3 separate regions of the Homo sapiens genome follow, and regions 1 and 2 are each reported to be linked to region 3. The links are microRNA targets in miRTarBase. Many come from high-throughput screens and were not tested one by one. Region 3 holds a microRNA gene; each other region holds the end of a gene's coding sequence.
What was found. The annotated mature microRNA hsa-miR-5585-5p reads UGAAGUACCAGCUACUCGAGAG and lies in region 3 at 1,021-1,042, opposite strand. An mRNA with a match to its seed (bases 2 to 7 or 8) in the 3' UTR can be bound and repressed. Matches are read on the target gene's strand: a 7mer-m8 pairs with bases 2 to 8, a 7mer-A1 pairs with bases 2 to 7 and ends in A, and an 8mer does both.

Region 1 (3,234 bases), not on the chromosome of region 3:
ATGCAGTTTATTTGCTTTTCAGGTTTGTTTTGGAACAGTACAATGCACTCTCCTGGCTAACCTGTGACCCTGCAACCCAGGACAGACGCTCATGTCTCCCAATTCATTTTGTGGTGCTGAATCAGTTATATAACTTTATTATGAATATGCTGTGATCTTCATTTGATGGAACTGTGCAAGAAAAGAACAAGGAAAAATGGATGTTTCGCTGCAGGATTAAGTTACAATTATCTTCTCAGTGAAGGTCATTTGTGATGGGGTCTAATTCTTATTACTTCAACAAATATTGTTTTGACTTGGGGGGAGGGGCTATAACCCTGCTATTTTTCATTGACTCTATTGAACTCTTTAGGATGATGACTGATCATACAAAACGTATTATAACATTTTCGTAGCAAAATTAACCTTTTTTTTTTCCAGTCACAGTATTTGTGAAAAGTAATGAGCCATAGTACCCAGTCATGTTAAATGAATATTAAAAGCATGGAGAGGAAACATGAGGAACAATGAATTTCAACATATGGCTTCAGAACATGAAGATGTTCTTGTATGGATTATAGTATCTAGTATTCAAAAATGCCTGCATCTCTTCTCTTATTTATTGTAAGTTTTTAAATGTATAAATTGTCTTATATTTCTTAACCTCTTTTATAAAAATTTTCCTAGAAGGTTTATACTGCCTTCTTGCTTTAAAGCAATTGGTCTAAAATATATGTAATCGTCTTAATTAAAAAGTTGCAGTAGGGTTGCTTTTAGAGTATTATTTTTTTGTAAGGGGGTGGGTGGGACAGTAAATTTGTATTGTCTCGATGTACAGTTTAACGGGGATAGAGGGGGAATAATGTCCATACCATTGTGTGTGGAGGATTTACAGCTAAGCTGTAGTTGCAGAGTACATGTACAGTAATGAAGTTCACTGTGTTTATAAATTGAAAAGGTACCAGGTCTTACAGCATTTTATATATCACATCTTTACAGAATAACATGATGGCAATATACAAGTGGTATTGTTAGGTGGTTTAACTTAGAATAAAATGAGAATTCTTCAGTTATATTTTGTACTATGGTTTAGGGCTATGACTAATATTTCAGGCCATTTCCGGTGAAAGAAACTTAGTTTTACAAGAAAAACCATTTGCTACTGAATGCTTAAACTAATTTTAGTGTTTAATGTTACATGCTTAAATTTTTTTCAGTTTTAACAGTGGCATATTTAGGCATGGAAATATTATTATGAAATTTATTTTCAGGATCTGCTATAAGGTTGAAATTTAGCCCAGCTCTAGGCATTTTACAAATTATTTTTCAAGCAGTCATTCTTGATTGTTTGACTTTTTTTTTTAAATTAAAGATTGGGAATGTATGTGAGAGTATGCATATGTATGGGTGTGTGTGTGTGCGCGCAATCAAACTGTGGTGTAAATAGATTCTCAGTGAATTCTGGTATTCAGACTCTATTCCACTAGTGAAAGAACCATTTTTTAAACTTCCCTTGCCTTTTTTATTTATTTAATTTTCTTGGTTTGGAGATGTCAGTCCCAAACACCAGAGTCTGTACTTTTCTATAACACAGCTCAGATTAAGGTAGGGCATATGCCAAGGAGGTTCTCACCTCCCTAAAGAAGGGACTTGAATTTTAGGGACTTTAATTCACCCCTCCTTCAATACAACTTTCCCCCTTCTTGTTTGCACATGCCAAGATAACTGCTTTTATGCAGGCTGTACCCCCTTGAAAAATCCTTTCTACAGTGCTGCTCACAAAAGAGCCCAAGTTCGCCTCCTACCTGCATTGCTGACTTGAATTCACAGTCGCCGAGTCTACCTAGCTTTCTTGGAAGCAGTCTAGCAAAATTTCTATTTGTACGTTCACTAATTATCTACAAGGACAAAATCAGTTGTATTTACAAAACTCTACTTCAGTGTTTGTTTTAGTTTTTTTTTTTACTGAAACTTGTTTTTGTGAATACTCTGTGCTTAGAATTAAATATCACTTTCTTATGAACAACATAACTTCTTCAGATTGTGTATATGAAAACATTAGCAAGTCTTGTTTTTTCTATGAAGCAAACACAATTGGTGACAAAGGTTGTCAATCATTTCTTCAAAATTATAATGCAGTTCTAATGGTCAGCATATTTTGATATTAAATTTAAAGATCACCTCTCTGCATTTGTTTTTAAATTATGCTAATACACCACACATTATGTTGGTATGTTTTGTTCTGTACTTTCTTTAAAAAAAAAAAAAAAACTTGTCTGAGATTTGAAGGAAAATGTGCTTATTTGGAATTTCCATAAAAAGAGTATCCTTTTTATACACTTAATAGTGACTTTACAAAATAAAAGTTATATTCTCAGTTGTTTAAAATCACTAACCTATGATAACCACACCTCAATTTGAAAGTAGATTTAAAATTATTCCCTGACAGGTTATTTAATATGGAGCCATAAGGAGGGAACCCAGTACACAATTATTTTTTATTTGGGAATCAGGGAATAGTTCCCAAATATACAGGATTTATTGATAAGATTTTTTTTCTTCCCTTCATATATCCATTCAAACTCAATGGAAAGTTATTAAATAACCATTAGAAAAGCTCAGTAGACTTATTTGAGAAATTAAGCCTTGTGCAGGATGATGGATTTGACTTACTAATGTACTGTCACAGACAAATATGGGTAGTTTTGTTTAAATAGGTAAGCAAAATATTATACTTTATAGCAGTGGATTACCAACACCTTGACTTCTTTGTTACAGTGCTAACATCTTTTTTTTTGTGCAGGTATCCATGATTATTAAGCAGGGTGGAAGTTCAGTATTTTGTCATTTAAAAAGATTAGTTATATAATGTCTGCTTCCAGCCAGTGAGAAACATCTAGCCATACCTTTCTTATGCAAGCCATTGAGTTATCAGGACTGTGAATTAACACTGTATGAATAAATTTCTGTACACCTTATTGTTTGGCCAGAAGGCCACCAAGTGTACTTATATGTAATCCTTAAATTTTAAAGTAGCTGTAATTTTTAAATATTTCTAAACTTTTCTTAAACCACTAAAATTAAGCTCTTACTACTTAGTCAACTATCCTCAGCTGTATTCGTACTCAATTGTCAGTATGGCACAGATTACTGTATTAAAATATTCTCCTTTCGTCTTCATATTTACCTTCTGAGGTAATTTTTTAACTTAATGTGTTACTACAAAGATTTGCAGATCTTTAATCAAGCACTATG
Region 2 (3,240 bases), not on the chromosome of region 3:
CACCAGTAGGTATTCAAAAGTGTGGTCCCTTTAAAACAGCAGGCCGGATATCACCTTTCTGTCTTCAAAGATTCAAACCAGACTCCCAATCTGGGATTTCTCTACAGAGGGTTGGCTGCTTCCCAGTTAATGTGAGTTTTGCAAAGTTTGCATTTCATGAAAACAGTGTTGTGTAAACATATATTGTGTCACTTTACCTACTATTTACTAAAATCAGAGAGTTTAGCCTTTGAAATTTATGGTTCTCTGGAGCTATCATAAATCAATCAGTCATACGAATGGACTAGCTGTAGACTCAGGATATCAATAAAACTAGGCAGTGAAATTTGCCTATAATTATACTATATTTAGATTAATAGTTATCAAAAACATTTTTCCCCAAAAAATACCTCAAGGGTAAAACAGAATGGTAAAGTTTTTTTCAGGATAATGAATTTTCAAACATTTCCAAGACCATAACCAGCCATTTTAAGTACTGTAAACTCTGTTATATTTCATTTGGATAAGTATCTAATAAGCAATTATTACATATCCTCTCATTTAAATTACCACTGAAAACTAGAAATAATCTTTATTTAATACGACTGTTTTAACACCATATGGAACGGGAAATAACTAAATGAAAATTGTTCACGTAAATGTGATGGGAGTGGGGGGGTGGGGAGCAGTATTTCTTGACATGTGGCATGTCACTCAGGAAAGTAAAAGGCCCATCATATCCAAAATGCCAGCTTGGATATTCCCTTGCCACCCACTTGACGAACAGACATACCACATGGCATTAAATGCTGCAACCTTTCCTAAAAATGCCACTTGGATTGGTCCGCTGTGGTGAGTATATAAGAACTCTTGGTCTGTCTCTTGAGTCTGTGAGTTCAAAGGGAAGAATCTAGTAAATAACACCGGCTAAATTTTGCCCTCAGATGTTTGGCATAAATGATTTGTGAGGATATTGGAACCTTTGGCTGTTTTCACACCAATGAAATAAATTATGCTACTTGAAAAAAATTCTACAGAACATAATGCTACACAGTCACAGTCGACTTTTTGCAAAAGTACCAGAGAATATCTTTTAGAAACAGTGCTTATAAAGCCCCATATACTCCTTAGATATTTCCCAAGGATTTCTTCTCTTGGCTAGCAGGAAAACAATCTTAATATTTTATTTATTCTTCATAAATACAATGTATATAATATAAAACACTTTGTGCACATGTTTCCAACAATTTCATTTTCTATGCATCTTTACATAAGGTAGTAGCTAATAACTCTTTCTGTGGACACGTATTTTCCAGTTTTCTAAGGTTTATGTGTTCAAGCATTGTAAAAACATATTTAAAAATTGAATTACCAGTAAAAATATTGAATGTACAGGTCATTATGCTCCCACAAATACAAAATACATTGAAAAATTATATCAACAGATAATTACATATGAAATATGAGGCATATATTTTCTTCTATTATTTATTTTCTCCCTAAAGAGTTCTAATTGATTAAATCTCAAGAGACAAAATGTAATTTTATAAAACAACTGTATTGTTCAGATTTAGGAGACAACCTAAGAAGATGATTCTGAGTAGGTAGGATTTTTGCTATTACTGTTATGTGAAAAAGACTGCTCAATTAAATGACAGATTGTTACATATCTCCCTAACAAGAGGGGCGAACTGATACTACAAGCAGCCAGAACAACATAATTAGAATAGAATTCCAAGGTTATATTAATAGAGTAATAAGTTAATTAAAACCAAGATCAACTGAGCTTCTATTTACACCAGTTCAGACAGCCCAAGAGGAAAAGAACTCTATTTTAGAGACATATGTGACTCTTTGAGCTTCTGTCATCCAGGTGCCATTTCTGATGCAGCACATGTGCACTGAACAGTTGGCAAAGAAGGAAAAAGATTATGGTAGATGTATGTGCAGATAGTCTCTCTAATGATGTAAAATACGTCCAGAAAGAAAGCAGGGCTTTGTTGTAAAATAAAAAATTTCCCATGACTTTTTGTTCTTTCTGAATGTGATTTGAGCATGTTTCTGTAAATAAGAATATATACTAACTTATGATGTATATAGAACAAAAATAGACTTACTCATCAGGAAGTGATGGAATTATACACATAAATTGGCAATGACATTTGAAAAATTTAGGATCTGGTTCCCATTTCATCTAAATGTACCATGTATAGGGTGGCTGTCAAAGCAGAAAGATATATAAAAGTATCCAGTAGCACATACTATACTGCATTGCTAGGTAAGGTTCTTTTCCTGACATCCTATGCAACTATCAAAAATCATATGTCTGCAAACTGAAAATATTAGCAGAAAGAATTAAAGATGTTACAGTTTCAGTATTGAAAGTTTTGGTCCCAAAAGGTGCTTTCGTAAAGTTATTTCTCTTTCATGCATTGATTGTTGCTTAGCTAATCTTCATCTTGGTCCAGATCAGGGTCAACATCCGTGGTGAGTCTGAGATAAAAGAAAGCATAGAAAGCCAGTAGTAGTGCCAATATAGCTGCAAGTACAAGGCCAACTTCCTGGGAAGAAAAAAAAAGTAGACTTGAAATTGATGAAAAAAGATTGGTTAACATTATTAGTTTCACCAGATAAAATAACCATATTGTTCCACAGTCTAGAATGAATAATTTGAACCTAATAATCATATCCTTTTTGTTTACCATTTTTTGCCGTTAAGAAACTGTTTTGTACTGGCAAGTCCCAATGAAATGGCAAATACACCAGTGGGTGAGTCATTAGTATTATTATTTCTAGCTAATTTGTTTTTTCCTTATAGTAATATTAAAAATGTATCATTTTAATATATTTTTATAGTTTGGATATCAGGATGTTCGATACAAGCAATGCAGTTTGTATCTACACAGTTGATCTGTTTTCTATTTGAGTGTGTTTAACTTTATTTGTGGCTTCAATACATTCAGTATTAATGATAGCATTTGGGCACAGTTTTTTTTTTAATTATCATTCCTTTTCATTGTAAAGAAACAGTTGTAACTGGTCTCTAGATTATATATAGATGTATACATACTCATTAAATGTGACTTTGTTGAAACTCTAATTTTTAAATCCTAAAGTCTATAGTTTACACTGCAGAGGAACAAAACAAAGTACTCTTCACTCATGAAGCATAATACAATACATTTATCACAGTTTTGAAGGATGGGCCCAGATTTTTCATTTGTGATGTGATGTGGATTAAATTAATCAACTATATTGTAA
Region 3 (3,264 bases):
CCAGAGTCACATAATTTAGCCACATTAAAAAACAGAAGAGATGGGCCAGGTGTGGTGGCTCATGCCTGTAATCCCAGCACTTAGGGAGGCTGAGGCGGATGGATCACGAGGTCAGGAGATTGAGACGATTCTGGCTAACACAGTAAAACCCGTCTCTACTAAAAATACAAAAAATTAGCCGGGCGTGGTGGCAGGCGCCTGTAGTCCCAGCTACTCGGGAGGCTGAGGCAGGAGAATGGTGTGAACCTGGGTGGCGGAGCTTGCAGTGAGCAGAGATTGTGCCACTGCACTCCAGCCTGGGTGACAGACTCCGTCTCAAAAAAAAAAGAAAAAAAAAAAGAGAGATGAAATTATTATTATTATTATTTTGAGACAGTTTCACTCTTGTCGCCCAGGTTGGAGTGCAGTGGCATGATCTCGGCTCACTGCAACCTCTGCCTCCCAGGTTCAAGCGATTCTCCTGCCTCAGCCTCCCTAGTAGCTGGGATTACAAGCATGCACCACCACGCCTGGCTAATTTTGTGTTTTTAGTAGAGACGGGGTTTTTCCATGTTGGTCAGGCTGGTCTCGAACTCCTGACCTCAGGTGATCCGCTCGCTTTGGCCTCCCAAAGTGCTGGGATTACAGGTGTGAGCCACCGCACCCGGCCTTTTTTTTTTTTTTTTTTTTTTGTGAGACGGAGTCTCACTCTGTGCCCCAGACTGGAGTACAGTCGTGCATTCTCGGCTCACTGCAACCTCCCCCTCCCGGGTTCAAGAGATTCTCCTGCATCAGCCTCCTGAAATTAATTTTAAGATTCTATTTTACTTAACCCAATACATGCAAATACTATCACTTCAACATATAATGAATATTTTGAGATGTTTTACTTTCTTTTTTTTAATTAAGACAGGGTCTTGCTGTGTTGCGCAGGCTGCTGGAGGGCAGTGGCATAATCATGGCTCACTGCAGCCTCTACCTCCTAGGCTCAGGTGCTGGCACACACCTGTAGTCCCAGCTATTCAGGAGCAATCCTCTGACCTCTCGAGTAGCTGGTACTTCAGGTGCGTGCCACCATGCCCAACTAATTTTTATATTTTCTGTAGAGACAGGGTTCTGCCATGTTGCCCAGACTGGTCTCAAGCTCCTGGGCCTGATCCACCCTGCCTTGGCCTCCCAAAGTGTTGGGATTACAGGTGTGAGCCACTGTGCCCAGCCTCAGTTTCTCTCTCTTTTTTTTTTTTTGAGACAGGGCCTGGCTCTGTTTCCCAGGCTAGAGTGCAGTGGTGCAATCTCAGTTTATTGCAACCTCCACCTCCCAGGCTCAAGCCATCCTCCCACCTCAGCCTCCAAAGTAGCTGGGACTACAGGTGCAGGCTACCATGCCCAGCTAATTTTTGTATTTTTGGTAGAGATGGCATTTTGCCAAGTTGCCCAGGCTGGTCTCAAACTCCTGAGCTCAAGCCATCCGCCTGCCTCAGTCTCTCAAAGTGCTGGGATTACAGGCATGGGCCACCATGCCCAGCCTACTTTCTTTTTTGTGTGTGTACTAAGGGTTCAGAATCGGTGTGTATTTTACACTTAGAGCACATCTCAACTCAGACTACCCTATTTCATGTGCTCAATAACCAGGGGGGCTAGTAGCTACTCAACTGGACGGTACAAGTCTAGAATATGGCATGAGCGAACTGGACTGGAGGTGGGAGCTTATCTACCCAGAGTGACCCAAGAGAGACTCTGCCTTGAAGTGGGCACATATGATAGAAGATGAAGTGGGGAGCAGGTATGAATAAATGGGATTAAACAATGACCTATGTTTATTTATAAGAGTCAGTCCCTTTATTCCCCTACTCACCTCATACAACACACCCTGAAGGATTCTTTTCTAAAGAAATTGAGTAAACTGAGAATTGAGGTCTCTAATGGCGATATCTTAGAGTAACACCCCCACCACTCCCTTTCTGGCCTACGGAGGCTCAAAGCCTAACAACCAGCACTTCACTCACTCATCCTCAAAGCAAAGCCTGCCAGTCAGTGTGCCCTGCCCATGTACTTAAAGTTTCCAGTCAAAGCTCTTACCCCCTTAAACAATGACAGAGAGAAAGAAACTGCACTCCTGCTACTCAGTCCTTCATTTTTACATATAAAGAGACAAGCAAACAAGCCAACTATACTTGGAAAACAAGCAGCATGAAACAGAAAAATTGACCCCAGTGAAAAGACAAAATTGAGGAAAATAAGGGAATTTTTTTTTTTTTTTTGAGACAGAGTCTCGCTCTGTTGCCCAGGCTGGAGTGCAGTGGCGCAATCTCAGCTCACTGCAACCTCCACCTCCCGGGTTCAAGCAATTCTCCTGCCTCAGTCTCCCGAGTAGCTGAGATTACAGGCATGCACCACCACACCCAGCTAATTTTTGTATTTTTAGTAGAGACAGGGTTTCACCATGTTGGCCAGGCTGGTCTTGAACTCCTGACCTTGTGATCCACCCACCTTGGCCTCCCAAAGTGCAGGGATTACTGGCGTGAGCCACCACGCCCAGCCAAATAAGAGATTTTTAAAACAAGAATAGTATGCTATGAGAAAAGAACAATCAGCAAACATAGAGGCCTTAGAGATGAAAAATATGATTGCTGAAAAAATCTCAGTAAAAAAGCTAGAAGATAAAGTTGAGGAAATCTCTCCAAAGGCAATGCACATACAAAGAGAGAGAGAGAGAGAGATTAAATATTAGAGAAATATAGGAGAAAAAGATGACCAATCTATGAGGTCTACCATCTGATGAACAGAAATCCAGAGATAATAGAAAAAATTAAAAGGAAGATATTATCAAAGAAATATCAAAGGAAAATTTCCCCAAGCTAAAGAAGTACTCAAATCTCCAGGTTAAAAAAGTCCTAGAGTCCTGAAAGGATGAATGACAAACGTCCCACAACAGACACATCCTTTGAAATTTCAAGTAATCAAAAGATAAACAGAATATTCCTCAATGCTTTCAGAAAGGAAAATACAAGTCATCTATAAAAGAATTGGAATCAAACTCAAACTGGCACCAGACTTCTCACTAGCAACACTGGATACTAGAGACAATGGAATAATAACTGCAAAAGTTCTGAGAATGTGAATTTGAACTTAGAAATCTACACTGAGACTGGGTGCGATGGCTCACACCTGTAATCCCAGCACTTTGGGAGGCTGAGGTGGGTGGGTCACGAGGTCAGGAGTTTGAGACCAGCCTGACCAACATGGTGAAACCCCGTCTCTACTAAAAATACAAAAATTAGCTGG

Region 1: the mRNA of MED13 is a reported target of hsa-miR-5585-5p. Seed matches in the 3' UTR shown: 7mer-A1 at 273-279 and 7mer-A1 at 1,913-1,919.
Region 2: miRTarBase lists TRIQK as a target of hsa-miR-5585-5p. The part of its 3' UTR that is shown has no 7-base or 8-base seed match.

The regions. Positions count from the first base shown.
Region 1 is chr17:61,943,389-61,946,622 of GRCh38, reverse strand. It overlaps MED13 (mediator complex subunit 13), which reads left to right. Exons shown (of 30, transcript NM_005121.3): 30 at 23-3,234. The coding sequence ends at 155. Among named protein-coding and RNA genes, the nearest start is that of INTS2, 17 kb to the right of the region's middle.
Region 2 is chr8:92,884,196-92,887,435 of GRCh38, forward strand. It overlaps TRIQK (triple QxxK/R motif containing), which reads right to left. Exons shown (of 5, transcript NM_001171797.2): 5 at 1-2,540. The coding sequence ends at 2,427. Among named protein-coding and RNA genes, the nearest start is that of TRIQK, 80 kb to the right of the region's middle.
Region 3 is chr1:32,084,727-32,087,990 of GRCh38, reverse strand. MIR5585 (microRNA 5585) reads right to left here and starts at 1,042; the gene lies at 984-1,042. The region is part of intron 5 of TMEM39B (transmembrane protein 39B); the gene reads right to left.